4 linked regions of the Homo sapiens genome follow. The protein of the gene in region 2 interacts with the protein of the main gene of each other region in a biochemical or structural test. Each region holds a gene or a part of one and is shown on either strand. Other genes may lie near its edges. The genes, in order: TOM1L1, TOLLIP, TLR4 and PEG10.

Evidence for each region.
Region 1: the proteins of TOLLIP (region 2) and TOM1L1 form a complex in vitro, tested with the Homo sapiens proteins (one study listed by BioGRID).
Region 3: the proteins of TOLLIP (region 2) and TLR4 form a complex in vitro, tested with the Homo sapiens proteins (one study listed by BioGRID).
Region 4: the proteins of TOLLIP (region 2) and PEG10 form a complex in vitro, tested with the Homo sapiens proteins (one study listed by BioGRID).

Annotation. Positions count from the first base shown.
Region 1 is NC_000017.11:54,957,624-54,964,576, forward strand, and holds the end of TOM1L1 (TOM1-like protein 1), read left to right. Parts: exon of another isoform or gene 1-2,942; coding exon 2,943-3,003; 3' UTR 3,004-3,004; exon of another isoform or gene 3,005-3,611; 3' UTR 3,612-3,641; coding exon of another isoform or gene 3,642-3,703; 3' UTR 3,704-4,333; downstream 4,334-6,953. Other genes in the region: COX11 (cytochrome c oxidase assembly protein COX11, mitochondrial), read right to left, coding at 5,110-5,292, 5,683-5,808. UniProt on the Homo sapiens protein: Probable adapter protein involved in signaling pathways. Interacts with the SH2 and SH3 domains of various signaling proteins when it is phosphorylated. May promote FYN activation, possibly by disrupting intramolecular SH3-dependent interactions.
Region 2 is NC_000011.10:1,282,843-1,290,690, reverse strand, and holds part of TOLLIP (toll-interacting protein), read left to right. Parts: intron 1-281; coding exon 282-464; intron 465-1,371; exon of another isoform or gene 1,372-1,795; intron 1,796-1,914; coding exon 1,915-2,067; intron 2,068-4,598; coding exon 4,599-4,689; intron 4,690-7,093; coding exon of another isoform or gene 7,094-7,173; exon of another isoform or gene 7,174-7,733; intron 7,734-7,848. UniProt on the Homo sapiens protein: Component of the signaling pathway of IL-1 and Toll-like receptors. Inhibits cell activation by microbial products. Recruits IRAK1 to the IL-1 receptor complex. Inhibits IRAK1 phosphorylation and kinase activity.
Region 3 is NC_000009.12:117,712,741-117,720,588, forward strand, and holds part of TLR4 (toll-like receptor 4 isoform A precursor), read left to right. Parts: coding exon 1-1,908; 3' UTR 1,909-7,848.
Region 4 is NC_000007.14:94,657,985-94,665,832, forward strand, and holds part of PEG10 (retrotransposon-derived protein PEG10), read left to right. Parts: intron 1-5,349; coding exon 5,350-6,550; coding exon of another isoform or gene 6,551-7,698; 3' UTR 7,699-7,848.

The sequences.
Region 1 (6,953 bases), on a different chromosome or scaffold from region 2:
AGTCCCATGAAATTCAGGGACTTCCCTCCAAGGAAAAGCACAGAATCTTGCAGGAAATTACTGGGTTTTTTTCACATCATTGGTTGTCCATGAATCCCAGGTTGACAATTTTTGCTCTACCAGGACAAACAGTATGTTTATGAAGATACACACGATTCACTAATTTCAATATTATGTGCCAGGGACTATGACTGGACTAATTTATAATTCTGAACAAGAAACATGCTCCCTTGTCCTCACAGAGGTTAAACGTAGTATGGATACAGAAATTAGACAAACCACCAAATACATGTTTACAAAATTTGTGTTAATGTTATGAAAGAATATGGCAACTTGAAAGTTTGTAACAGAACTAATTTAAATGAGGATTAGAGAAAGCTTCAGGTAGCATTAATGCTGAGGCCTGCAATTCTTAGTTAAGTGAAAAGTTTGGAAATGAGTATTGTAGGCCCAAGGAACAACCTGTACAAAGACCCAGAGGACAGAGCTCTGGCACATTCAAGGAAATGGAAATGCTAAAACCAAGAGTAAAGAAAGTTAACAGGGAGCTCAGTACCAGATGAGGAAAATGTAATTTGGAAGCAAAAAGGAGCGAGTACAACTGTGAAGAACAGTGCCAGGGGCAGACAAGTAAGATAAGAACTGAAAACTAGATAATGGATTGGAGATCATTGATGATTTTAGTAAAAGCTACTTTGATGGACTGATGAAGACAGAACCCAAATTTCAGTGCATTTGAAAAGCACATGAGAGATTAAGTAGAGACAGTAAGTACAGATAACTTCTTAGAACTTAAATATGAAGCAGTGATGAAAACAGGTTTGGGGCCGGGCACGGTGGCTCACGCCTATAATCCCAGCACTTTGAGAGGCCAAGGCAGGCGGATCGCCTGAAGTCAGGAGTTTGAGACCAGCCTGGCCAACATGGCAAAACCCTGTCTCTACTAAAAATACAAAAATTAGCCAGGCGTGGTAGCGGGTGTCTGTAATTCCAACTATTCGGGAGGATGAATAGGAGAATCGTTTGAACCCAGGAGGTAGAGGCTGCAGTGAGCTGAGATCCCACTATTGCACTCTAGCGTGGGCAACAAGAGTGAAACTCCATCTCAAAAAAAAAAAAAAAAAAGGGGTTGTTGGTAGCTAGAGGATACTAAGGCATTTACTACAAGAAGAGATGGAATTAAAGGCTGTACTTTGTATAAAATGGGAGACATGGGAGATGCTGGAGAATCTGTGAATGTTGAAGAATAGGATCTGGCATAGAAGGAGAGGTTGAAGACTCAGGAAGGGAAGAATAACTGAATGGGTCAAGTGCTTCAGAAGCCAGGAATAGACAGGATCACAGAAATAATGGACAATACAAATGAAGATAAACTTGAAGATTTAGTGATGGGAAAATGAGGAAGTTTCCATATCAAGACATTTAATGTATTAAGAATGCAGTTTCTACCAGAGAGTTTAGAGGTTTGAGGAGAGTGAAGAAGACTGAAATCGTTTTGAGGGAGATGAGACCAAACTTTTTAGGGAAACATTAAAATTGTAGCACCATTCTGGGGCCTTATGAACTTGGTGATCATGGTTTCATAGCGCTGTGATTTTTGAGATTTTTCCTCAGCCATGTTTTGCTATACTGTATATATGAATGTTGTGCTTTCAGGTATATTTTCCAGCTACAGACATATGTAAGACGCATATAAAGAATTGAATGGGCCTGGCATGGTGGCTTATGCCTCTAATCCCAACATTTTGAGAGGCTGAAGTGGAAGGATCACTTGAACCTGGGAGGTCGAAGCTGCAATAAGCCATGATTGCACCACTGCACTCCAGCCTGGGTGACAGTGACCCTGTCTCAAAAAAAAGAAAAAAGAAAAACGAATGAAGGATGTCATTGAAAAAATACAATATAAAAAAAGTACAGAAATGACAGTGATGAGCTATAGATGGCTGAGGAGTCTGGACTGTAATCACATAGTTTAAATAAGCTGGAAGATTAATTTTTTTTTTTTTTTTTTGAGACGAAAGTCTTGCTCTGTAGCCCAGGCTGGAGTGCAGTGGCACGATCTCAGCTCACTGCAATCTCCGCCTCCTAGGCTCCAGTGATCCTCCGACCTCAGCTTCCTGAGTACCTGGGACTACAGGTGTGTACCACCACACATGATAATTTTTATGTTTTTTGTAGAGATGGTATTTTGCCATGTTGTTCATACTGGTCTTGAAATCCTGGACTCAAGCGATCCACCCACCTCAGCCTCCCAGAGTGCTGGGATTATAGGTGTGAGCCACTGCACTTGTCCTAATATTTTTTTAAAAAGTTTGAAACCAGAAGAAACTGAGGAGTTTTTTAAGCAAAACATAAACTGTCCAAATTTGAGTCATATTTCTCATTTCAATCACAAGAAAAAATTAATTGGTTCTATGAAATACATACTTTTAAGAGACATAGGAATTGCAACAATAAGGCCGGGTGTGGTGGCTCACACCTGTAATCCCAGCACTTTGGGAGGCCGAGGCGGGTGGATCACCTGAGGTCAGGAGTTTGAAACCAGCCTGGCCAACAGGGTGAAACCCTGTCTCTACTTAAAATACAAAAAAATTAGCTGGGCATGGTTGTGTGTCCCTGTAATCCCAGCTACTCGTGGGGCTGAGGCAGGAGAATCACTTGAACCTGGGAGGCAGAGGTTGCAGTGAGCCAAGAAAGCACCATTGCACTCCAGCCTGGACAAAAGAGTGAGACTCTGTCTCAAAAAAAAAGAAAAAATGAAGTGCAACATTAGAATTTAAATAAACTAGAATACACACTTCAGGGCAGAGACTTATTTTTACTCATATGTAGCCTGAACTCCAAAACCAGCTCAATTTTTAATTACAGTGCTGGCAGTTAAAAACCAAAATAGCACTTTGAAATTGATACATAACCCTTTTGCTGTGATGGCTTTGTTTCAGAGCTATTTATGAAGAAATTGATGCTCACCAGCACAAAGGAGCTCAAAATGATGGTGACTGAGGTAAAGACTTCAACTTATACAACTTAATTCCATATTCCATATAATTTCAGTATAATTATCACTTTACATATTTAGTATTTAAATTTTCTAAGGGCCATCTGAGTCTGACACTTTGAAATATGAGTTCCCCTGAATCATTCAAATTGTGCTGAACCATTGTTCACTAATGAGAGTCATTCTTTGTGATTTTCTCATCTGTAAATAGTAAGGCTTGGGAATACAGTAGTTTATGGTATAGAAATATTAATGCTAACAAAATAGATGAGCAATAGGAGTAGCACTGAAATCAGGCATTTGTTTTTCATATGCAGTTAATACTTGTTAACCGGTACCAGTAGACCCATTTACCGTTAGTCCTCCAAATAGGTCTGAATTTTTCCTATTTTCAGCACTACTAATCCCATGTATTTACTATTTAATGGTCACCAATGAACTATCAAAACTTATTTATTCCCCTTATACCCTCCCCTATGGAAGAAGCACATTCTTACCTTTCTTCTACTAGACTGTGACTCTCCAGCTTCCCAGTAAAGACAAGAGAGTTATCAAGGAATGGGGAAAGAGAAGGACAGGATGAATACTGGCCATTTTCTTCTCTTTATTTTAGAAGAAAGTGGATGATCAGCTCACTACCACATCAAAGGTGCCAACTCTCTAAAACGTAGACTCTGTGCAGCTTTGAAGCCTGGAAGACAATACCTACCAACATGTCAAAGCCATGGTGGCACATTTCTGCTATAATGAAGATTAAATAGAATAACAGTTCCAGGATAACACTGATTCCTGACAACAGCGTGAGATTTCAACAGAACTTGTTTGGAACAAATACTCACTTAAAACTTCAGCAGAAGAAAAATTACTTAGTCCTTAGGCCAACCAATTTAACTGCAGTGTCATGTTTCACAGGCCTTCCTACATTTAGAAATCGTCACACAGCTGTGATAAGAGTAGATTATTTTACTATGAAATAATTCTGAATAGATGAAAGCATAAAATGTGAGAAACTGAATGTATTATTCAGGAAGAATACTGAGTGCCTTCATTTAACTAAAGTTGAATGTAAAAGTCAATTTGCACTTCTTTATAATCCTCTGGTTTAGAATTATAAATTGTTAAAACCTTGATAATTGTCATTTAATTATATTTCAGGTGTCCTGAACAGGTCACTAGACTCTACATTGGGCAGCCTTTAAATATGATTCTTTGTAATGCTAAATAGCCTTTTTTTCTCTTTTTACTGCAACTTAATATTTCTATTTAGAACACAGAAAATGAAAATATTTAGAATAAGTTGTACATTTGATGACAAATAAATCACTATTAAAACAATTTAATACTTTTTTTTTTTAACAAAGGTTTGTTTCCAGAAGAACTTTTGATGTCAGTAAATCTTCACAATCCCACCTGTACATTTTAACATTCATGGACTTGTAATGGTGATGCTTTGGCTAACAGCCTAGTAGATGTATTTTATTTCAATTTTATGATACTACAGTTTCAAAGTAATTATTCAGAACTCTGAATATAAAATAGCCCTAAACCTTAAAGGACAAATCAAATTTGAAATAAGAATTTAAATCTTTGGACAAGCTGTTAGGGCTTAGTGACTCCTCTTCTACTTTGAGCTTTTAAAATACTGACTATTCATAATGAAGGAAAATAGCAACCAACTCTTTTAGACACAATAAACATGGTTAGAAGTTCTGGCCTATGACTTGAAACAAATAACCCTGAGCATACATTTTTGAAAAACATTGTCAGATTCATTGCTGTAAGTATGAAGAGTTAATAATCTGGAAGGGAATTATGGAATTAAGCTGAACCCATGCCTGCATATTTAAAAAACAAAGCGGCTTATTTTAATAGTATCAAACTCTTCAGTATGGTATTGAATAGTCAGTCATATATTCTAGCTAGGCATATGAGTTTCTTATGATAAAAGCTGAACTTGTTCTCTCAAGTTTAAGTGAAAAAAATTAGTTGAGAAAAAATAATTATTTAAAATATAAGCCTTCATATTATTGTACAATATTTCTCCTTTGAGAAGATAGGATATATGATTTTCCCAAAAATCACAACTTTGAAGGAAGACTTAGTTGCTGACTTCAATTATATCCTGGAACTGGCAACTTGTGCCCTTCCTTTGCTTCAAAAAAAGTGTAAGAAAGAGTGATAAGATCAACTTTAATCATTCTTGGATCTTCAGCAAATTCAGGATCAATGTAGAAAAACACTGGCATATCTACTTCCTCTTGGGGATTAAGCCTTTGTTCTTCAAAACAGAAGCACTGGAAATTATAGAAAGATTTTAATAACATTTCTATTCTCGTATTACATAACAGAAACTATACAGTTCTTTTATCTTAGCATTCCAGTACACTTCGTGATTTTAATAAGCATACTATTAAATACACAGTTCTGTGATAAATTAAGAGCATCTTTTCATCTCAATGAGTTCTGCTTTAAGGATGAAGAACAAATTCTAATCTTAAAAGCAGATATCCATTTGGTTTGGTTCTCAATCTCTGCATAGCAGGTATAGATAGTGAAGAAAAATAGCTTGATGTTTAGAAGAAATTCGTTTTCAGAAATCACAAGATCTACTAAAACACTAAGTTTCATACTAAACCGTTTCATGTATCTTTATCATATTCTGTAAAGTTTACACTTTGATGTACCTGTATTTTATTGAAATACTGTCCAGCTTCAAATGGAACAATATTGTATGTAGAAATTCCAATTACTGGTTTGTCAGTAGGATTCTTAGCTCTGTAAAACGCCAGTGCAGTCTCTCCTGGCACCACCTGTTTTAAAGAATATATATATTATCAATACTTTGAATCTCACAAAGTTCCTCTTTTCCCTGCTAAATTAGTCTCATTATTTTGCCTATTCATCAGACCATAATACCTAATCTAATGTAGGGTTCAGCAAAATAAATTGTGAATATTACCCATAAACATATCTGAGTTTAAAAACTTACTTGCATATGTCAATGAAGAACCAATGTTCTAATATCCATAATTAGTTATGAACTGTCCTCTTGTATATTTGAGGTCTTCAAGGAATAATCGGCAAATTACATTATTTAAAATGTGTCCAAGCCAATCATATCACAGCCCTAGCCCAACTTTTCTGTAACACTTATACCTGAATGTCATGATTGACTATTTTTTTTAAAAAGATACCAACATTAAACTTACCTTAAAATCAGAATAAAACTGACTGACTAGAACCTTTATTATGCCACAAAGTGTTAATACTTTGGAGAAAATAAGGGAATAGCGAGGCTTAAAAAAATTTTCCAAAGGATATTCTGTCACTTGTACCAATTCAGCCACTAATACCTTTGTATACTACCACGTAATTGGAGAAGATTCATAATCATAACCTATAAAATCTTTATTAAGAGATTCAGTCATGTTTACTAAACTGGGCAAGCACTAATATTTATAAGGCTTTTCCAATATGGGTTGAAATTAACTCACTCTGGCTAATCCTCAATTAATGAGATTTCAGTTAAAATCTTTCTTACAGTTGGTTAAAATTTTAGGAAAGCGTTTAGGTATAGTCTCAGTCTCACTGGAGTATAACATAACTATTTACTACTTATTGATTATTTCAAAGGCCCTCAATTTGTTTTCTTTTAGAAGGACAGGGATACTTTTGATATAAACCAGTAAACTACTCATTGTAACCAATGCTTTTCCACATTTTTCCCATGTCTTCTATGCCTGAGGAAAAGTCAGGAAGCTATATAGCCTGACGGTTACTGCTACTCCCAACTGTTTCACTCATCTAAACTTAATTTCAAAATACTGACGGGTTCCATTACTATAAATTTTTTTATTCCCATAGACTACTTTTTAATAGTGCTTTACACCTAATGTAACAGAATTTATACTTTAACTTTTAAGTTACATGATAGTAAAAGTCAATTTGGAACAAT
Region 2 (7,848 bases):
GAGTGGCGGCCTCAGCTGTGTCTGTGAGCGTCGTAGGTTTCTGCTGTCAAGGACGAGCCACGTGCTTTGTCTCAGAACTGCACGATCCATCTGTGGCTCACTCTTCTTGCTCCTGGCCTCCTGGGAAGCAGGTCACAGCCGTGTTCAGGCGACTCTGAGTGGCTGTAGTCTATGTGTTAGGAAAAGGCCTCGTGGAAGGGTTCAGGGAGGCAGACGGCCTAGAGAACCCACCCTCTCCTGATGGTTGGCACCTCCTTTTCCTGACATTGGCTTCATTCCAGGCAAAGTTGGCCAAGAATTACGGCATGACCCGCATGGACCCCTACTGCCGACTGCGCCTGGGCTACGCGGTGTACGAGACGCCCACGGCACACAATGGCGCCAAGAATCCCCGCTGGAATAAGGTCATCCACTGCACGGTGCCCCCAGGCGTGGACTCTTTCTATCTCGAGATCTTCGATGAGGTGAGAGGGACGTGCCAGCTATTATGGAGGCTGCACGTGGCTGAGCGTGGCTGCCGTGGGGACACACCTGCCAACACAGCCACGTTCCTGGCTGGCTTCGAGGCGTGGCTCCCCACCTGGTGTTTCATTGGGTGCATGACAGGGTCCTGCTCTCCCCAAGGAATGTGAAAAAGGGATTGTTTCCAGCTCCTTGAACATACTTACATTTGGAAACATCCCCAGTGACAAGCATGACCCAGGGATACAGCGTGCACGTGTCCCCTCCGCTGGGCGCACAGGGTCTGGCCGCTCACCAGCAGGTGGGATTTCCAGGGACAGAGCGTGCACGTGTCCCCTCCGCTGGGCACTGATCTGGCCGCTCACCAGCAGGTGGGATTTCCAGGGACAGAGCATGCATGTGTCCCCCGCCACTGGGCACTCGTCTGGCCGCTCACCAGCAGGTGGGATTTCCAGGGACAGAGCATGCATGTGTCCGCCCCGCTGGGCGCACAGGGTCTTGCCGCACACCAGCAGGTGGGATTTCCAGGGACAGAGTGTGCACGTGTCCACTGGGCACTCGTCTGGCCGCTCACCAGCAGGTGGGATTTCCAGGGACAGAGCGTGCATGTGTCCGCCCCGCTGGGCGCACAGGGTCCGGCCGCTCACCAGCAGGTGGGATTTCCAGAGAGTGCGGCTGCCTACTGGGTGGGAAAGCTGTTCTTGGTGGTGCGAATGGTCGTGACCCTTGAGGGTCCTGAGTCCCGTCCGTGGCTGCACCTGCAGCGCTTCTGAGGCAGAGTCAGAAGGTCAGAGGGGATGTGGCGAGGCTGCTGCTCAGTGTGGTCCTGGCACCTCGCACCTGTGGCATTGTGAGGCTAGAGACTGGGTGGGGGCCGGGGAGCAGTGTGGGGCAGCCAGGCCAGCAGACGGCCAGCCCTCCCTGCCTGGGCCCTGCCTTTTCCTCCCGGCTTTTCTCTCCCCGTCCCTACCTGCTTTCCCCTCCCTGGCCCTCAGAAGAGTAGAGAGCGCATGGGAAGTGCAGAGTCAGCTGTGGGAGGCAGACCCCGTGTCCTTTCCAGTCTGCACCCCGGCTGCTCTGGGGCTTGACAGGTGGCAGCCGGTGGAGCAAGGATGGGGCCCCGAGGGCTGGGGAGGAGCAGCCAGTGTCCCTGAAGTGGAACTGAAGGAGGACAGCAGCCCAGGGCCCTCGCTTTCCCCAGCCCCAGACCTGGCCCTGGCCCTGGCCCTGGCCCATCCTGGTGGAGAGAGGGAAGAAGTCCCCTACGGAGGCTGATATACGATCGTGAAGCCTGCGCTGCCCGAGGGGTCTCATCGATGGGGTGTTGGTGCAGGTGGGAGCCCTGTTCCACAGATAAGACGGGGACTCGAGGCGGGCCCACGATGGTGCGGCTGCAGGGGCAGGGTGGCCCCTTCCCTGATGCCTGGGGCCTCTCCCTCTTGTCTCCCGCAGAGAGCCTTCTCCATGGACGACCGCATTGCCTGGACCCACATCACCATCCCGGAGTCCCTGAGGCAGGGCAAGGTGGAGGACAAGTGGTACAGCCTGAGCGGGAGGCAGGGGGACGACAAGGAGGGCATGATCAACCTCGTCATGTCCTACGCGGTGAGCTGCACGCCTGGGCGGGGTGGGGCGCATTGGGGTATGTTGGAGCACGTCGGGGCTATGCCGCCCCACAGACACCCTTGTCTCTTTCCTGGAGGCACTGAGCCCATAAAACAGCAGGGCTCACGTTCTGAGGACAGAGGGCAGGGGCCCTGGGTGGTTTGGTGGCAGAGAGGGGCTGCCCTGCCCACTGCTCCTGCCCATGTTCTCTGTCTGGGGAAACAGCATAGGGGTTGTTTGTGTTCCTAAGATGAGCCAACCCTTTGTGGTGGTCTCCACTGCAGGCCCCTGTGTCCTCGGAGGACCCCCACAGCCCTTCCAAGCTCTGCCCTTAGGGTCCAGCTGAGCAGCCCTCCAGGGTCTGAGATACAGCCCTGGGCCCTGCAGGACACCAGGCTCCTCCCCACAGGGCAGGCATTGGCCGTGGTGTGGCAGGGCATCTCTGGAGATGTCGGGGAAGCCTGGGGGCTGCTGTGCTCAGGGTCAGGAAGTCGAGGCCTGGCTGTGGGGCCAGCACGTCAGCGCCCTGGCTCCCAGCCATCTCCATTCTCAGGGCACCTGCAGCTCCTGGGGGCATCAGGAGGGCCAGTTAGAGGCTCCAAGACGCAGAGCTCCTGCCGTCTCGTCTGTATCATCAACCAGAGGATTTTCAGGCTGTTACTGAAAAATGGTGCTGTGGGAAATGCCAGGCAGATGTGACAGCAGAGAGGGTGCAGCAGAGAGGGTGCAGCAGGGAGGGTGCAGCAGGGAGGCTGCAGCAGAGAGGGTGCGGCAGGGAGGCTGCGGCGGGGAGGGTGCGGCGGGGAGGCTGCGGCGGGGAGGCTGCGGCAGGGAGGGTGCGGCGGGGAGGCTGCGGCGGGGAGGGTGCGGCGGGGAGGCTGCGGCGGGGAGGCTGCGGCAGAGAGGGTGCAGCGGGGAGGCTGCGGCGGGGAGGCTGCGGCGGGGAGGGTGCGGCGGGGAGGCTGCGGCGGGGAGGGTGCGGCGGGGAGGCTGCGGCGGGGAGGCTGCGGCGGGGAGGGTGCGGCGGGGAGGCTGCGGCGGGGAGGGTGCGGCGGGGAGGCTGCGGCGGGGAGGCTGCGGCGGTGAGGCTGCGGCGGGGAGGCTGCGGCGGGGAGGCTGCGGCGGGGAGGGTGCGGCGGGGAGGGTGCGGCGGGGAGGCTGCGGCGGGGAGGGTGCGGCGGGGAGGCTGCGGCGGGGAGGGTGCGGCGGGGAGGCTGCGGCGGGGAGGCAGCAGCAGGGAGCTGCTTTTCTGGGCCATCTTGGCTCCTCCCACCCCCTTTTTGTTAAAGCTGGGATATTTTAAATCATGTCCCGGCCGTGAGTGACGATGTGTAAATGTCTCATGACACGTCTTTAACAGACGCTTTCATACAAACACAGAACCATCATGACGCTCCAGTGATTTTACCTGCAGTTGACAGTTTCGAACTCAGAGACGACAGTGGTGCAGTGACTTATCCGCAGTTGACAGTTTCGAACTCAGAAGACAGCGGTGCAGTGACTTATCCACAGCTGACAGTTTTGAACTCAGAGACGGCAGCGGTGCAGTGACTTATCCGCAGCTGACAGTTTTGAACTCAGAGGCGACAGTGGTGCAGTGACTTATCCGCAGCTGACAGTTTCGAACTCAGAGACAACCGCGGTGCAGTGACTTATCCACAGTTGACAGTTTTGAACTCAGAGACAACAGCAGTGCAGTGACTTATCCGCAGTGGACAGTTTTGAACTCAGGAGACAGCAGTGCAGTGACTTATCTGCAGTGGACAGTTTTGAACTAAACTCAGAGACGACAGCAGTGCAGTGACTTATCCACGGTTGACAGTTTTGAACTCAGAGACAACAGCAGTGCAATGACTTATCCGCAGTGGACAGTTTTGAACTCAGGAGACAGCAGTGCAGTGACTTATCCACAGTGGACAGTTTTGAACTAAACTTAGAGATGACAGCGGTGCAGTGACTTATCCACAGTTGACAGTTTTGAACTCAGGAGACAGCAGTGCAGTGACTTATCCGCAGTGGACAGTTTTGAACTAAACTCAGAGACGACAGCGGTGCAGTGACTTATCCGCAGTTGACAGTTTTGAACTCAGAGGTGACAGTGGTGCAGTGACTTATCCACAGTGGACAGTTTTGAACTCAGAGTTGACAGCAGTGCAGTGACTTATGTGAAGTTGACACTTTCAAACTCAGACACCACAGCAGTGCAGTGTGGTTCCCCCCAGGCCGACTCGACACCTACACTGGGATGTCCCTCCTGTCACCATCCTCTCTCAGTCACATCCCAGTTAGAAGGGGGTCTGTAAGCCCGAGCCATGTCACCTCCTGGATTTGAGGAGGTGGTGCAGGGGTGGGAGCAGGGCCCAGCGTCCCCTGTGCACTCAGGGCTCGTGTAGCGAGGGTGATTCTGGGCTGGCATGGGGAGGGCGATTCTGGGCTGGCGTGGGGAGGGCAATTGTGGGGAGGGCGATTCCCGAGGTTCTGATGGGTGGATGTTCCTCCTTGACCCCGGGACCATCTCCGCTGTGTTTCAGCTGCTTCCAGCTGCCATGGTGATGCCACCCCAGCCCGTGGTCCTGATGCCAACAGTGTACCAGCAGGGCGTTGGCTATGTGCCCATCACAGGTGCGTGTGCTCCCTCCCTGGGTGCCTCTCCCCTGGTAGAAACCCCAGGGCCTAGGGCAGGTGCGGGAGGAGGGAACGGGGCTTAGAGCGCCGGGGTGGGGACGTCATCCATTCTAGAATCCTGTAGACGTGCTGACCGCACACAGATCCTTTCAGGCCAGGAAGCCAAGGCTTACGTTTGAATTTTGTTTGCATATCTAGAAAATAGAATTGTTTTTTTTTTTTTTTTCTAATTGTTGGCAGAAATGAGGTGAGTTGAAATTTTCAGAGATGTGGAAATGTGGCTTTGAAACCCCGTTGTGCCCAGCTCTGTGCAGGAGAACCTCACGCCCCTGTCAGGTGACACGTGCTCTGCACTGTGCCGTCGTGTCCGAACCTCACGCCCATTGGGTGACGCGTGCCCTGCGCTGCGCCGTTGTGTCTGAACCTCACGCTCCTGTTGGGTGATGCGTGCTCTCTACTGCGCTGTTGCGTCTGTTGTCGTGTGTCACTGTTAGGAGTGAGCAGCCTGTGGCTGCAGCAACACCAAGCTGGGATGTCGCTTTTCATGCTGTTGCATTTTCGGTCCAGCTGTGACTGTGGTAGCTGCTGGTGCAAGACCGGCCCCCACCATGGATGGGCCCAGCCGTCTTTAGCAGGCGGGGAGACCGCAGCCCCTGAGAGGAGGTGCTAGGGGGGAGCCTGTGGTCACCCTGGTTCTCCTGCTGAGGTGGCCTCTCTCGTTCTGGGGAGCTGGTGTCCAGGCAGAGCACTGGTCCCTCTGCACGGAGGGTGGAGGCCAGAGGCCCAGGCCATGGAAGTGGCCAAGTTGCGGGCAGGGCGCTAGGGATGCGTGGTGGTGTTGGGGGAGGTGGTGTTAGGGGAGGGTCTCGGGGCTGCATGAGGCCCCGGCTGCTTGTGCTCAGGGGCTGCTTTGGGGTTGGGGCGGGACAGAGCTGCTGGCAGGCGAGAGTGCTGTGAGGCCAGTGCTGGTGTCCAGCCCAGCTGGAGTGGAGAGGCCTGGTCAGCACCCCAGTCCTGCCAGCATCCTGCACAGATGCAGAAAGGCCACCTTGGGAGTCGGGACCTCGCCCTAGACCCACCTGATGTGGCCTGAAACCCAGCCCTGACGATGGGAAGGAGGAGACGGCACTGGGAGACTCTGGGCTGTCCACTGGTGTTCAGGACATTCTCGGACAAAACTGCCTGTGAGAACAGCATGGCCTCGCCCTCACTTGCTCACATTATAGACTCTGTTTCCATGTGAAGCCGCCCGCGCAGGTGCCAGGGCTGCCTTTCTCCAGAGGAAAGAGCAGAGCGTGTGTCTGAGAGGGCCTCTGTGGTGTCCAGTGTCTTAGAAAACCACCAGCCTGGGGGTGGGTGTGGGGGCTCATGCCTCTAATCCCGGCACCTTGGGAGGCCAAGGCGGGCAGATCGTGAGGTCAGGAGATCAAGACCATCCTGGCCAACACGGTGAAACCCCGTCTCTACTAAAAATACAAACAAATTAGCCGGGCGCGGTGGTGGGCGCCTGTAGTCCCAGCTGCTCGGGAGGCTGAGGCAGGAGAATGGTGTGAACCCAGGAGGTGGAGCTTGCAGTGAGCCGAGATTGCGCCACTGCACTCCAGCCTGGGTGACAGAGCAAGACTCCATCTCAAAAAAAAAAAGAAAACCACCAGCCCAGCAGAGGTAGCACCTGCACCCCGTCACCGAGGAAAGAATGCTTCCTAGGAGGTGACCACAGGTGAGCCAGAAACGCAGAAGCAGCCTTGAGGCGTTCAGAGTTAGAGGAGGGTGGGCATCTGGGTAAGTGGAAGAGCCAGCACCTTGGCAGAGAAACGGGGGCGAGCATGGGAGCCCCACAGCTGTTCCTGAGCCTGGAGCCTGGCCAGGGGAGCTCTGCTGCCCTGGGGGCCCTGATGCGCCCTGGCTGCCCCCCAGAGTGGCTCCTGGAGGTTCTGATTTGTAACTGGGACAGCCCAGAGCCGCCGTCGTGGGGTCAAAGTGCCTTCTGTGATGTGCAGTTCATGGGGCTAGTGAAGTTCTGTCTGGTTGTCCTGAGTTGGAGGCCAATGGCCAACCTGAAAGAACAGAGACCCAGGCCCTCCAGCTTCCTGAGGCTGGAAGTCGAAGCCCCGTAGGCAGGGCCACTCACTCGTCAAGGCTGTGAGGAGGATCCTCCCCGTCTCCTCCAACTTCTGGGCCGGGCGCTCTGTGGCTGTCTTTTTGGGGGGTGCAGTTCCATCAACTGGATACAGCGCCAGGGTGTATCTGGCTGAAAGAGCATTCAGATGACAGATAACATTGATTGGCTTACCTCTTTCTGGTTCCTATCCCTAATTCTCTTTGTAGATGCCTTTCAAGTTTGCTCTAAAACGTTTATTTTAGGAAAGGCTAGACAAACTTTGAAATTTTCTTTTGATAGACATTGTAAATTTTGGAACAGCCCCGCACTTCATAGAAAAGTTCCCAAGGAGATGCAGGAACATCTGCCAGAGCCTGTGAGGACTCGTCCACCTGACGCCCCACCGGAGCCCCCAGCCCCCATGCCCAGGCATGCGTTTCCAATAAGCAGGGGCGTCCCTGGCACAGTACGGCCATCTAGATGAAGCTGACACTGACGCGTTGGGGCTGTACCCTGCTTGGAGCCCGTCTGAGTCCGCAGCATCCAGGCCGGGGTCACTGGCCCTCCATGGCCTTGCCTCCCTTGGCCTGGAGGGGTCCCCATCTTGCTCCTAGGGTATGTTCTGGTCAGGGACCTGGTGGGGCTGCTGACGTGGCCTTGCAGGGTAGGGCTGAGTTTCCCCGGGGCTGCTGGCAGGGCCCCCGCATTTTACCCAGGCAGATGCCACCACCGCAGATTCCACCCAGCGCAGGTTTACCCAGTGCAGGGCTAGTGGTGTGACTTGCTCGTCCCTCACGGCGGGCTCTGCCTGGCTGTTCCCCGGGAACTAAAATATGTCCTGTGTGGGAGGCACCCCAGGACCACGTGAAGATCCCGCCCTTGTCAGCCCCTGAGTTTATCCGACTTCCCCAGCAATGTGGATTTACAATTTCCTATTTTATTTATTTATTTATTTATTTTAATTATATTTTAAGTTTTAGGGTACATGTGCACAACGTGCAGGTTTGTTACATATGTATCCATGTGCCATGTTGGTGTGCTGCACCCATTAACTC
Region 3 (7,848 bases), on a different chromosome or scaffold from region 2:
AATCTCTCTTTAGACCTGTCCCTGAACCCTATGAACTTTATCCAACCAGGTGCATTTAAAGAAATTAGGCTTCATAAGCTGACTTTAAGAAATAATTTTGATAGTTTAAATGTAATGAAAACTTGTATTCAAGGTCTGGCTGGTTTAGAAGTCCATCGTTTGGTTCTGGGAGAATTTAGAAATGAAGGAAACTTGGAAAAGTTTGACAAATCTGCTCTAGAGGGCCTGTGCAATTTGACCATTGAAGAATTCCGATTAGCATACTTAGACTACTACCTCGATGATATTATTGACTTATTTAATTGTTTGACAAATGTTTCTTCATTTTCCCTGGTGAGTGTGACTATTGAAAGGGTAAAAGACTTTTCTTATAATTTCGGATGGCAACATTTAGAATTAGTTAACTGTAAATTTGGACAGTTTCCCACATTGAAACTCAAATCTCTCAAAAGGCTTACTTTCACTTCCAACAAAGGTGGGAATGCTTTTTCAGAAGTTGATCTACCAAGCCTTGAGTTTCTAGATCTCAGTAGAAATGGCTTGAGTTTCAAAGGTTGCTGTTCTCAAAGTGATTTTGGGACAACCAGCCTAAAGTATTTAGATCTGAGCTTCAATGGTGTTATTACCATGAGTTCAAACTTCTTGGGCTTAGAACAACTAGAACATCTGGATTTCCAGCATTCCAATTTGAAACAAATGAGTGAGTTTTCAGTATTCCTATCACTCAGAAACCTCATTTACCTTGACATTTCTCATACTCACACCAGAGTTGCTTTCAATGGCATCTTCAATGGCTTGTCCAGTCTCGAAGTCTTGAAAATGGCTGGCAATTCTTTCCAGGAAAACTTCCTTCCAGATATCTTCACAGAGCTGAGAAACTTGACCTTCCTGGACCTCTCTCAGTGTCAACTGGAGCAGTTGTCTCCAACAGCATTTAACTCACTCTCCAGTCTTCAGGTACTAAATATGAGCCACAACAACTTCTTTTCATTGGATACGTTTCCTTATAAGTGTCTGAACTCCCTCCAGGTTCTTGATTACAGTCTCAATCACATAATGACTTCCAAAAAACAGGAACTACAGCATTTTCCAAGTAGTCTAGCTTTCTTAAATCTTACTCAGAATGACTTTGCTTGTACTTGTGAACACCAGAGTTTCCTGCAATGGATCAAGGACCAGAGGCAGCTCTTGGTGGAAGTTGAACGAATGGAATGTGCAACACCTTCAGATAAGCAGGGCATGCCTGTGCTGAGTTTGAATATCACCTGTCAGATGAATAAGACCATCATTGGTGTGTCGGTCCTCAGTGTGCTTGTAGTATCTGTTGTAGCAGTTCTGGTCTATAAGTTCTATTTTCACCTGATGCTTCTTGCTGGCTGCATAAAGTATGGTAGAGGTGAAAACATCTATGATGCCTTTGTTATCTACTCAAGCCAGGATGAGGACTGGGTAAGGAATGAGCTAGTAAAGAATTTAGAAGAAGGGGTGCCTCCATTTCAGCTCTGCCTTCACTACAGAGACTTTATTCCCGGTGTGGCCATTGCTGCCAACATCATCCATGAAGGTTTCCATAAAAGCCGAAAGGTGATTGTTGTGGTGTCCCAGCACTTCATCCAGAGCCGCTGGTGTATCTTTGAATATGAGATTGCTCAGACCTGGCAGTTTCTGAGCAGTCGTGCTGGTATCATCTTCATTGTCCTGCAGAAGGTGGAGAAGACCCTGCTCAGGCAGCAGGTGGAGCTGTACCGCCTTCTCAGCAGGAACACTTACCTGGAGTGGGAGGACAGTGTCCTGGGGCGGCACATCTTCTGGAGACGACTCAGAAAAGCCCTGCTGGATGGTAAATCATGGAATCCAGAAGGAACAGTGGGTACAGGATGCAATTGGCAGGAAGCAACATCTATCTGAAGAGGAAAAATAAAAACCTCCTGAGGCATTTCTTGCCCAGCTGGGTCCAACACTTGTTCAGTTAATAAGTATTAAATGCTGCCACATGTCAGGCCTTATGCTAAGGGTGAGTAATTCCATGGTGCACTAGATATGCAGGGCTGCTAATCTCAAGGAGCTTCCAGTGCAGAGGGAATAAATGCTAGACTAAAATACAGAGTCTTCCAGGTGGGCATTTCAACCAACTCAGTCAAGGAACCCATGACAAAGAAAGTCATTTCAACTCTTACCTCATCAAGTTGAATAAAGACAGAGAAAACAGAAAGAGACATTGTTCTTTTCCTGAGTCTTTTGAATGGAAATTGTATTATGTTATAGCCATCATAAAACCATTTTGGTAGTTTTGACTGAACTGGGTGTTCACTTTTTCCTTTTTGATTGAATACAATTTAAATTCTACTTGATGACTGCAGTCGTCAAGGGGCTCCTGATGCAAGATGCCCCTTCCATTTTAAGTCTGTCTCCTTACAGAGGTTAAAGTCTAGTGGCTAATTCCTAAGGAAACCTGATTAACACATGCTCACAACCATCCTGGTCATTCTCGAGCATGTTCTATTTTTTAACTAATCACCCCTGATATATTTTTATTTTTATATATCCAGTTTTCATTTTTTTACGTCTTGCCTATAAGCTAATATCATAAATAAGGTTGTTTAAGACGTGCTTCAAATATCCATATTAACCACTATTTTTCAAGGAAGTATGGAAAAGTACACTCTGTCACTTTGTCACTCGATGTCATTCCAAAGTTATTGCCTACTAAGTAATGACTGTCATGAAAGCAGCATTGAAATAATTTGTTTAAAGGGGGCACTCTTTTAAACGGGAAGAAAATTTCCGCTTCCTGGTCTTATCATGGACAATTTGGGCTAGAGGCAGGAAGGAAGTGGGATGACCTCAGGAGGTCACCTTTTCTTGATTCCAGAAACATATGGGCTGATAAACCCGGGGTGACCTCATGAAATGAGTTGCAGCAGAAGTTTATTTTTTTCAGAACAAGTGATGTTTGATGGACCTCTGAATCTCTTTAGGGAGACACAGATGGCTGGGATCCCTCCCCTGTACCCTTCTCACTGCCAGGAGAACTACGTGTGAAGGTATTCAAGGCAGGGAGTATACATTGCTGTTTCCTGTTGGGCAATGCTCCTTGACCACATTTTGGGAAGAGTGGATGTTATCATTGAGAAAACAATGTGTCTGGAATTAATGGGGTTCTTATAAAGAAGGTTCCCAGAAAAGAATGTTCATCCAGCCTCCTCAGAAACAGAACATTCAAGAAAAGGACAATCAGGATGTCATCAGGGAAATGAAAATAAAAACCACAATGAGATATCACCTTATACCAGGTAGAATGGCTACTATAAAAAAATGAAGTGTCATCAAGGATATAGAGAAATTGGAACCCTTCTTCACTGCTGGAGGGAATGGAAAATGGTGTAGCCGTTATGAAAAACAGTACGGAGGTTTCTCAAAAATTAAAAATAGAACTGCTATATGATCCAGCAATCTCACTTCTGTATATATACCCAAAATAATTGAAATCAGAATTTCAAGAAAATATTTACACTCCCATGTTCATTGTGGCACTCTTCACAATCACTGTTTCCAAAGTTATGGAAACAACCCAAATTTCCATTGAAAAATAAATGGACAAAGAAAATGTGCATATACGTACAATGGGATATTATTCAGCCTAAAAAAAGGGGGAATCCTGTTATTTATGACAACATGAATAAACCCGGAGGCCATTATGCTATGTAAAATGAGCAAGTAACAGAAAGACAAATACTGCCTGATTTCATTTATATGAGGTTCTAAAATAGTCAAACTCATAGAAGCAGAGAATAGAACAGTGGTTCCTAGGGAAAAGGAGGAAGGGAGAAATGAGGAAATAGGGAGTTGTCTAATTGGTATAAAATTATAGTATGCAAGATGAATTAGCTCTAAAGATCAGCTGTATAGCAGAGTTCGTATAATGAACAATACTGTATTATGCACTTAACATTTTGTTAAGAGGGTACCTCTCATGTTAAGTGTTCTTACCATATACATATACACAAGGAAGCTTTTGGAGGTGATGGATATATTTATTACCTTGATTGTGGTGATGGTTTGACAGGTATGTGACTATGTCTAAACTCATCAAATTGTATACATTAAATATATGCAGTTTTATAATATCAATTATGTCTGAATGAAGCTATAAAAAAGAAAAGACAACAAAATTCAGTTGTCAAAACTGGAAATATGACCACAGTCAGAAGTGTTTGTTACTGAGTGTTTCAGAGTGTGTTTGGTTTGAGCAGGTCTAGGGTGATTGAACATCCCTGGGTGTGTTTCCATGTCTCATGTACTAGTGAAAGTAGATGTGTGCATTTGTGCACATATCCCTATGTATCCCTATCAGGGCTGTGTGTATTTGAAAGTGTGTGTGTCCGCATGATCATATCTGTATAGAAGAGAGTGTGATTATATTTCTTGAAGAATACATCCATTTGAAATGGATGTCTATGGCTGTTTGAGATGAGTTCTCTACTCTTGTGCTTGTACAGTAGTCTCCCCTTATCCCTTATGCTTGGTGGATACGTTCTTAGACCCCAAGTGGATCTCTGAGACCGCAGATGGTACCAAACCTCATATATGCAATATTTTTTCCTATACATAAATACCTAAGATAAAGTTCATCTTCTGAATTAGGCACAGTAAGAGATTAACAATAACTAACAATAAAATTGAATAGTTATAATAATATATTGTAATAAAAGTTATGTGAATGTGATCTCTTTCTTTCTCTCTCTCAAAATATCTTACTGTACTGTACTCACCTATTTTCAGACCATAACTGACCATGAAACCTGGGAAAGTGAAACTGTGGATAAGTGAGGAACTAACATACATACATGATTGTTTATCTACAGATGTATGCCTCAGTTTCTTAGTATGCTTGAAAATGTATGATTTTGTGTATATCCGTGCTACATGTAAGTGTGGTTCTATTCATATTTGAATATGAATTCTGCATAAGTGTGTTTATTCAAGCAAATGTACAAGGCTCTGAGAAGGAAGATCAACATACAACTTGGAATATTTCAAGGCCGAAATATTCAAGGCTGACATTGGCCTCCTTCCTATCAGTTCCCTCTCCCAGATGGAAATTCTAGAAATGGCAGGTGAGGTGGACAAGCAGGGAAAGAAATTATATGCATAGAACAGAAGGAGAAGAAAGAGTAAAGTCAGGCCTCAGCCAGCCTCTTTTTAGCTCTTTAAATCCTCTGGATTTAAGAGGGATAAAGGGTGGAATAAGGATAAATTAATGCCAATTGTAATGCCTTAAATTTGTGTGATACCTTACAACTTGAAACATATTCACAAAACTATATATTTGAATATCTCATTAGCTGAGTAAGGTAGCAAATCATAATTAACTTTTTCCATTTTATTGATGGGAAAGCTGAAGTTCAATGAAGTAAATTTTTCAATAGCCCACAGAGTAGGAAAGTGACAAAACCTGAGCCTGGGCCTCCAGGTCACTCAAGGACACTTTCTTTCTTCCACACCCAATTGCTTCATGCTTAAAGTTGGCAAAACAGGAAGTGAAACTCCTGCAGTTTTCTGTGTGGTTGACACTAGCAAGGGTTTCTCAGTTGAAGCCATGAATCATTAAGCCAATACATATGCATATATGTTATACATACCAAATGATTTATTTATAACCCTATCTTTCCATAAAGGACTTGAAGGAGCTTCAAACAAAGGATATGTGAACAATAGGGTTAATCAATAATAAGTAGAAAATCTGGACATAGAATAAAAAGAGGAGAGAAAGACACCGAGAATGAGCGTTAATACAGTGCTTTCCATTTTTCTGGTGTTTTGAGTAGCGTGGCTTTTGGAGAAAGCCAAAACTCAAATTCACTCCTTATCAACTGTGTGCCTTGGGCTCCATTTCTCTGAGAGTCTACTTAGCTCCAATGTAAAATAAGAATAGAACTATGACTTTGTAAGGTTGCTCTAAGGATTGAAAATCATGTATTATGTTCAATACGGGGACACTGTCCTTATGGGTGAGTACTCCCCTAAGACTTTATTAAGAGGGCACTAGGAGAAGCACTGGGAGGTCTTCTCAGTAACAACACTAAAGTAATTGCTATTTTTCCAGCCTGTGGAACCACAGAAGTGACTGTAACTAAAATTAGACATTTCTTTCTGATTCATTCTCTACTCACGGGATTGTCAGACCCCAGTCTTCTTCTGGACTCTATAAACTTTTTAGAAATCATCAGCAGGCTCCTGGAGAAGCTTAAATGAACTCACACAATATGTGACAGTGAACTCCCTGGGAGAGTGAAAACCAAAGTCTAAGCCAGTGTCTCCATTTACTTGTGTGATTGTGGGCAAGTCATTCAAGTGCTTTGAGGCTCAGGTCTTAATTCATGAAATGGAGGTAATAATACCTTGTTGGCAGACCTCACTTGGTTAAAATGATAATGTTGATAGTTACAATAGTTACATTTAATTGATCAATTGTTTTATGCAAGGGCTTTATTTGTGCTATCTCAGTTTGTCACATCAATGAATTAGAAAGATACGAAAGTATTTCCAATTTACAAATGAGGAGTCTGAGTCTGGGAGTCATTCTGTCATGTGTCCACTGTCACCTGCTCATTGGTGGCAGCACTGAGATTAGGATCTAAGTCCACTTCACCGCAGAAGCAGGGCTTCTAAATACTGTTCTATGGCAAGAGCACCCTGCTCTCACAAAATGCATAAAACTTCCTATCTCACCATTATAATTTTGACTGATATTAAACAAAGAGAAGTATTATTATTATTACTTGTTTTTATTTATATTACAGCTGTAAGAGCCAGGAAAAATGTGATCTAAGTTATGTGATCAAAGATTTTTTAACAGTGAACAAATCAGGCCCACTAGATGATGGCCTTTCTTTGAACAACATGCCTAGGGTTGCTCTATCATGTCTACAGTTGGTCTGACTTCCTGACGGGCATCACAGACTTGTGATTAAACACAGAGGTTATGGGGGAAGTTCCAAAAGCTTAGGACTTTCCAGATGGTTGGAATAAGATCACACACTCTGGCTGCCCTTATGGAGATCACCGAACTTTTCAACTCAAAGTAAAATCTGTGGAGTAAATGGTCGATCAAAAGGAACCAACTATATTGAGCACCATGCGTGATCATCTGATCGTTACTGCTACCTTGTGAGTTAAAGGCTACTCTTCTCATTTTAGAAATGAGAAAAGAGATGCCCAGAGAGGACGAGTAACTTGCCTTAGGTCACACAGCTTATATTAATCACAATAACATTTGCCGCACCTTCTGTATTTTTTTTAAGTTGCTAAGCTTTTGGTGCATGTCTGGCACCGTTTTAGTTGTATATTATTTCATTTAATTGTTAAAATGACCTTCTGATGCAGGTATTTGTAGCTTTGCCATTCCACAGATGAAGAAACAGATGAAAGGACTGAATTGTTCAATAGGAAGGAGCAGAATCAGGATATGAACTTGGGTTGGCCTGATTCTTGGGGCTGCATTCTTTCCATAACATAATTGCTTGCTGTGATGTCCTGGGCTACTCTGCCAGGGGTGGTTAGTGGAGTGAATGGAGAATAATTTAGACAAGGTCAGTAACTCCCATGCCATCTAGAAATTAAAAGTTTAAAAGGCAGAGTCTGCAACTCTCCTTGATTTCTACAGAAATAAAGATGATCCCTCCTGTGACAGTGCTAAGTGACAATTCTGAGTGTAAATGCGCTTTTTGGCACAAATTGTCCTGTCCTAATAGTCTTGATTATAATTATAAAATAATGGGTTTCTGAAAGGCTGCAAGCAGTTCTGGGAATGGCAATAAAGGTTTAGAAATGACGTGATGTTTATGA
Region 4 (7,848 bases), on a different chromosome or scaffold from region 2:
TCCTTAGCGCCTGCCTGCCCAGGCCCCACCTCTCTCTGGCCACCTCATTCTGAGGTGAGCTGCTCAGGCCCCGCCTCTTCCAGGCCCGCCTTTTCTGTGGTGAGCTGCCCAGGCCCTGCCTCTCCCGGGCCCACCTACTCTGAGGTGAACTGTCCAGGCCCCGCCTCTCCCGGGGCCGCCCCCTCTGAGGTGAACTGCCCAGGCCCCACCTCTCCTGGGCCCGCCTCCTCTGAGGTGAACTGCCCAGGCCCCGCCTCTCCTGGGCCCGCCTCCTCTGAGGTGAACTGCCCAGACCCCACCTCTCCTGGGCCCGCCTCCTCTGAGGTGAACTGCCCAGGCCCCGCCTCTCCTGGGCCCGCCTCCTCTGAGGTGAACTGCCCAGGCCCCGCCTCTCCTGGGCCCGCCTCCTCTGATGTGAGCTCACCCAGATCCCACCTCCCCAGGCCCGCCTCCTCTTAGGTAGCCTGCTCAGGCCCCGCCTCTCCAAGGCTTGGCCCCTCCCTAAGCCTGCCTCTGCCGGGCTGGCCTATAGTCCCACCTCCCTCAGAGCCGGCTAGCACACATGCGCAGTGTGAACCCTCAGCCCCTCCCTTCAGGCGCCGGTCCTCTGCACCTGCGCACCTTCCTTGCCTGAGCCCTGGCTGTACAGCCCCGCCCCCCTGCGGTTTCTCTGCTGTGTTGGTTTTGCTTTTTGGCTACTAGAGTCTAATAGAATAATAAATAAAACAATTAACAATAATAATTATAACTGGAATTTATGAGCACTTTTAATATGTTCTTTGCATATATTCAATAACATAATCCCACAATTTAAACTCCTGATAGTGGCTTATGAAGGGACCTTGTAAACTGACATGGCTGGTGCCTCTAAAGGCAATTTAGCCAAATGTTTTTACTGCAAATGAAAACCAAAACTTAACAATTTATTTTTAAAAACTTTAAAAATATTTTCACATTTAAGGTTTTTTTAGAGGCACTAGTGGACCTTTGGGAATCGGATGTTTTGGTGGATACAAAATTGGTGCTGTTGGTTTGGCCTCTGAGTGAGGATAAGGCTTTTATTTGCGTGCCTATGAAGCTGGGTGTTTTCCTTGAATCTCTAGGTGATTAACCCTAGCCTATTTGCCTATGTATAATAAATTGTGCCTGCACATGGTAGGCATTCATTAAATATGTGTTAAATGACCAGAGTAAATTGGTTTATTCAGTGTCTTGCTTGGTGTCTGTAGGTCTCTTCTGATTTGCTCCTTTCCTATGGTGCTTTGCTGTCCTGGGTTGCCTTGTTTGCGTTATCTCTCACATTTAACAGAATAAAAAAAAAGTGTATGTGTTTTTAAACTCCAATGATATAAGCTGTAATTATAATACAAAGCAACTAAATTAATTTTAATTATTCCAAATAATTAGCTTTTTTCATAAAAAGCTAGTTATTCCAAATATTAGCTTTTTTCATGAAAAGCTAGTTATTCCAAATAATTAGCTTTTTTCATAAAAAGCTAGTTATTCCAAATAATTAGCTTTTTTCATAAAAAGCTAGTTATTCCAAATAATTAGCTTTTTTCATAAAAAGCTAGTTATTCCAAATAATTAGCTTTTTTCATAAAAAGCTAGTTATTCCAAATAATTAGCTTTTTTCATAAAAAGCTAGTTATTCCAAATAATTAGCTTTTTTCATAAAAAGCTAATTTAAATTTGGGGCAAGTGTATTATTAATGGTACATATTGTATTAAAGTTTGTGTAATGTAATATAAAGTGGCCACATTACAAAATATAGGTTGTTTCAGCTTGCAAAATTAAACAACTGTATAAAACAAATTTATAACTGATTGCTAGTAAGAGGTACCATGTAAGAATTGTGTTTCCAGCTGAATGAAGAAATTTTAAAACCTGGTTCCATATATTACAAATCATGAGCCAGGACTTTGGTAGGGGAGGAATTGGGGGCTTTGGCTCCCAAAAATCTCTGTCACATACCCCCTCCCCACCACAAGTACACAATCTATGGAAAATTTGTGCTTATCATAATTACAGCTTTAAGTAATTTTCCCTTCTCTTTGGATATTGTATATTTGCATATTGAAGAGGTTCAAAACAACAGTAATAACATGCATATTAAGAGAATTTGCATTTCATAAATAGTACAAGATAGTACTAAAAAATTGGACATTTGAAAATATGAAGCAACTAAGAGTTGCTTAATGAGATGTCATTTCCTAACAGGATGTTCATTTATGGTTTTTGGCTACTATTGCTCTTTGGTGTGTTTGTGGAATAGAAATTATTCCAAGCTATTGTGAAGAGTCAATAATTAACCAAATGTATTTATTTCCTAAAAAGACTAAAACTGAAATTATTATCATGTAAAGATGGCATCTGTCCTAGGCAACTTGGCTTTATGCAGTTTGTCCTTTCAGTTTTCAGGAATGAGACCTCTTGACCCCTCCCCTCCAATGCAGCCCCTACTAAGGGGGAGTTTAAGGAGCCATACATAGTTCTATAATTCAAATCAAGTAAACATGCTTCTTGTCCCAGGTTAACTTGTGCTGCCTCAGTCGCTGTTTAAACATTTTTATACGCACTGTTAACCTGCCTGCCCATTACCCTATTACTTTTAATGGATAAACTACTGTTCCCTGGGCAGTTGTCTCTTTTAACGTCCCACCCTAAACTTGCCAACCCTCATATGAAGGCCTCAGGCTTGTTATTGGCAAAGGTCAGAAGTCTTAAGCTAGTGACCTTGCAGGCTAAAGTAGGCCTTGAATTTGTTTGACCAGGAACTAAATTAAAAAATAAAAAAGAATGAAATGTCTGGTGGCAGGGGGGCAGGGGTGGGGAGGGTGGTAAGGGGGAGGGCATGCACCCCCAAGTTCCATTGTTGCAGCCCCTCCCATCTTAACTCTGGTCTCTTTTCACTTTTCAACTACCTTCCTTATATACCAAAGGTATTTGAATTTTTAACTCTTATTGATCTTTTATTTCCCTAAACCATGTAGTAATTATTTGCTGATTTCCTAATGTATTGTTATTTCTGTCCCATCACTGTTTTTTGCAGATAATAAAACCATCAGACCTGGGCTTCAATAAAGCCCCACTTAGTGGCCGTGATTGACAAGTGGTCAGGCTGCACCAGGCCATGCTGTGAATGCTCTTTAGGAAGTCTTGTCTCAAGGTTTTGAAGATATTAATGTCTAGATGACAAAAGTGGTACCTTAGTCACCTTACTTATGGTTATTAGTTGTTCATTAATGGGACATGAAAACTCCTAATTTAATAAGGAAAAATTGCATTATGTTGTGATGTTATATTGTCAGGGTCAGCAATACAATTGTCTTTAAGGAGTTGGAAATGATACTGAATGTCACGGGTTATGATGTGTTTATTGTGTTTTCTAATTTTTTCTAAACTTGAATATTTTATCTTGAATGTCAATTATTTGTTGTTTTTATAGCCTAAGTTACTAAAGTAATTAAGTAGTGGGGTTAAAACTGTTAAAATGTCACACTACTCCCTGTCTCTTAAAGACCCTGCTTGCTGTATAGCCACTCCTTGGAGAGGCTACACCAACTGCAAAGGACACAGGGATAGTATCTGTGGGTGGTGACATTGGGGCATGGGAGGTACCTAAAGAGTTTAGGAGTTGGAGAGGAAGGAGCATTTCTTTACAGCCAGGGGCTGGGCATCATGTTTAATTACCACTTTTTTTTTTTCTTGTACTCTATTGGTTGAAAATAGTAACTATTTTTCACCTAACTTCTCTAATTACCAACTGTGTATCTTTTTGGCCTTATTCTATGTAATTTATTTGGCGTCCATTTTTGCAGGTAAATCACATAGTGAGTATCCAGAGAGGACCAACTTATGTATTTAAACTTTTGTTTATTTAAAAGTTTTATAAACTTTCTTTAAAAGTTTTAAACTTTTTAAATCAAAGTTTTTTAAACTTTTTTAAACTTTTACATATTATGTTTTAAACTTTTTATATATTTAAATTTTCCAAATATGGGACTTGAGATTATTAATAAAATTTAAAATAATTAAATCATTCTAAATGCATTTAACTGTATTTTCAGGAAGTACACAGGCAGACACTGTGTCAGGATTTTTATGTGTGTGATTGTCATTACACTCATAATTAGAATGCTTAAACACACACCCTACCCCCACCTCCCCACACACATCCACTCACCCCCTAGGAGTGCAGCCCTGTCCCACCTTAACATTACAAACCTTCATTTGGGGCTATGCTGACAAATCTTCATTAAAAACTATGGATTACAAACTGGTAAACTGCAAGACAAATAAGGCCTTGAATTTGTTTGACCAACACAGTATTTTTAAAAAAGTAAATGTCTTTAGGTGGGAAATGCATGCCCATGTTGCTATAGTTGCAGCCCCTCCCTCTTTTAATCCCACTCTTTTTACACAGATAGTCACCTTTCTATTTTCTAATTAATAACTTTGTTCATATCAGCTAACCATTGTTGAATACTCACTACATAATTTACCTGCACTATTTAATTAAGTCCTCATAATTAGTTTGAGGTATACTATTATTGGGCTTCTTTGAATGTCCCATTTTATAGCTTTTCCTAGGAGGCATCAATTATTATTTCTTGAATGACTGCATAATGACAAAGGAAACTGACATACACATATTGCTGCTTAGTGCCATTTCTGTCCCATAGAGAATTTTCTTTGGGGATTTAAATTATGGTCAGAAAAGTAATTTAGGCAGTCCTGTGGTTTTTGTGGTGGTGGTTGTTTGATTTGATAACCAGTTACCTTCTCGGTGGCAGTGGAATAGGGTTGTGACAGTTGGCCAGAGTACCCTCCTGCCCACAGGGCTGATGAATACATGCATTGTGATTTTAATACTCCCTTCTTGCTTTAATGAGATTCTATTAGTTGCAGTATTAACTATTTTTGGCCTGGCTTCTTTAATAACAAAAGTTATTATTTTGGCTTTAATTTGCATAATTGATTTTGTATCCATGTTTGCCTTGAAGTTTCTTGCTGTGTTTGAATACAAAACTACTTGTTTAGAGGGTTTCAACATTCTTTTATAGTTTATAAAGGTAAGCATGCTGTTGATAATGTATTGTTGAATCATAATGAACAGGTGGCCTTTGAGGAAGACAAGGTCATTTGAACATCAAAAAGTACTTTGCTTTTTGTTATATATGGTGCTGATTACTAACTTTCTCTTGAGAGTTTATTTTCTTTGTTCACTAATTATTAATGTAAGCACGTAGAGCAAGGGATAATTTAAATACCAAATCCTTTGTGTCTGCTTTTGCTGCTTTGAATGTATAAGTTGGATTTATACATACATTTATCTTTATTTACAGAAATAAGCGGGTTTTGAAAACAAAAAAAAGAAGGAGTGGAAGAGGGGGCCAGGATCCAGGCCTCCATCCCCACAGAAGTGAAGCTACAGCTGGGAGGTCTCCTCCCACCCCAACCGTCACCCTGGGTCCCGACTGCCCACCTCCTCCTCCTCCCCCTCCCCCCAACAACAACAACAACAACAACTCCAAGCACACCGGCCATAAGAGTGCGTGTGTCCCCAACATGACCGAACGAAGAAGGGACGAGCTCTCTGAAGAGATCAACAACTTAAGAGAGAAGGTCATGAAGCAGTCGGAGGAGAACAACAACCTGCAGAGCCAGGTGCAGAAGCTCACAGAGGAGAACACCACCCTTCGAGAGCAAGTGGAACCCACCCCTGAGGATGAGGATGATGACATCGAGCTCCGCGGTGCTGCAGCAGCTGCTGCCCCACCCCCTCCAATAGAGGAAGAGTGCCCAGAAGACCTCCCAGAGAAGTTCGATGGCAACCCAGACATGCTGGCTCCTTTCATGGCCCAGTGCCAGATCTTCATGGAAAAGAGCACCAGGGATTTCTCAGTTGATCGTGTCCGTGTCTGCTTCGTGACAAGCATGATGACCGGCCGTGCTGCCCGTTGGGCCTCAGCAAAGCTGGAGCGCTCCCACTACCTGATGCACAACTACCCAGCTTTCATGATGGAAATGAAGCATGTCTTTGAAGACCCTCAGAGGCGAGAGGTTGCCAAACGCAAGATCAGACGCCTGCGCCAAGGCATGGGGTCTGTCATCGACTACTCCAATGCTTTCCAGATGATTGCCCAGGACCTGGATTGGAACGAGCCTGCGCTGATTGACCAGTACCACGAGGGCCTCAGCGACCACATTCAGGAGGAGCTCTCCCACCTCGAGGTCGCCAAGTCGCTGTCTGCTCTGATTGGGCAGTGCATTCACATTGAGAGAAGGCTGGCCAGGGCTGCTGCAGCTCGCAAGCCACGCTCGCCACCCCGGGCGCTGGTGTTGCCTCACATTGCAAGCCACCACCAGGTAGATCCAACCGAGCCGGTGGGAGGTGCCCGCATGCGCCTGACGCAGGAAGAAAAAGAAAGACGCAGAAAGCTGAACCTGTGCCTCTACTGTGGAACAGGAGGTCACTACGCTGACAATTGTCCTGCCAAGGCCTCAAAGTCTTCGCCGGCGGGAAACTCCCCGGCCCCGCTGTAGAGGGACCTTCAGCGACCGGGCCAGAAATAATAAGGTCCCCACAAGATGATGCCTCATCTCCACACTTGCAAGTGATGCTCCAGATTCATCTTCCGGGCAGACACACCCTGTTCGTCCGAGCCATGATCGATTCTGGTGCTTCTGGCAACTTCATTGATCACGAATATGTTGCTCAAAATGGAATTCCTCTAAGAATCAAGGACTGGCCAATACTTGTGGAAGCAATTGATGGGCGCCCCATAGCATCGGGCCCAGTTGTCCACGAAACTCACGACCTGATAGTTGACCTGGGAGATCACCGAGAGGTGCTGTCATTTGATGTGACTCAGTCTCCATTCTTCCCTGTCGTCCTAGGGGTTCGCTGGCTGAGCACACATGATCCCAATATCACATGGAGCACTCGATCTATCGTCTTTGATTCTGAATACTGCCGCTACCACTGCCGGATGTATTCTCCAATACCACCATCGCTCCCACCACCAGCACCACAACCGCCACTCTATTATCCAGTAGATGGATACAGAGTTTACCAACCAGTGAGGTATTACTATGTCCAGAATGTGTACACTCCAGTAGATGAGCACGTCTACCCAGATCACCGCCTGGTTGACCCTCACATAGAAATGATACCTGGAGCACACAGTATTCCCAGTGGACATGTGTATTCACTGTCCGAACCTGAAATGGCAGCTCTTCGAGATTTTGTGGCAAGAAATGTAAAAGATGGGCTAATTACTCCAACGATTGCACCTAATGGAGCCCAAGTTCTCCAGGTGAAGAGGGGGTGGAAACTGCAAGTTTCTTATGATTGCCGAGCTCCAAACAATTTTACTATCCAGAATCAGTATCCTCGCCTATCTATTCCAAATTTAGAAGACCAAGCACACCTGGCAACGTACACTGAATTCGTACCTCAAATACCTGGATACCAAACATACCCCACATATGCCGCGTACCCGACCTACCCAGTAGGATTCGCCTGGTACCCAGTGGGACGAGACGGACAAGGAAGATCACTATATGTACCTGTGATGATCACTTGGAATCCACACTGGTACCGCCAGCCTCCGGTACCACAGTACCCGCCGCCACAGCCGCCGCCTCCACCACCACCACCGCCGCCGCCTCCATCTTACAGTACCCTGTAAATACCTGTCATGTCCTTCAGGATCTCTGCCCTCAAAATTTATTCCTGTTCAGCTTCTCAATCAGTGACTGTGTGCTAAATTTTAGGCTACTGTATCTTCAGGCCACCTGAGGCACATCCTCTCTGAAACGGCTATGGAAGGTTAGGGCCA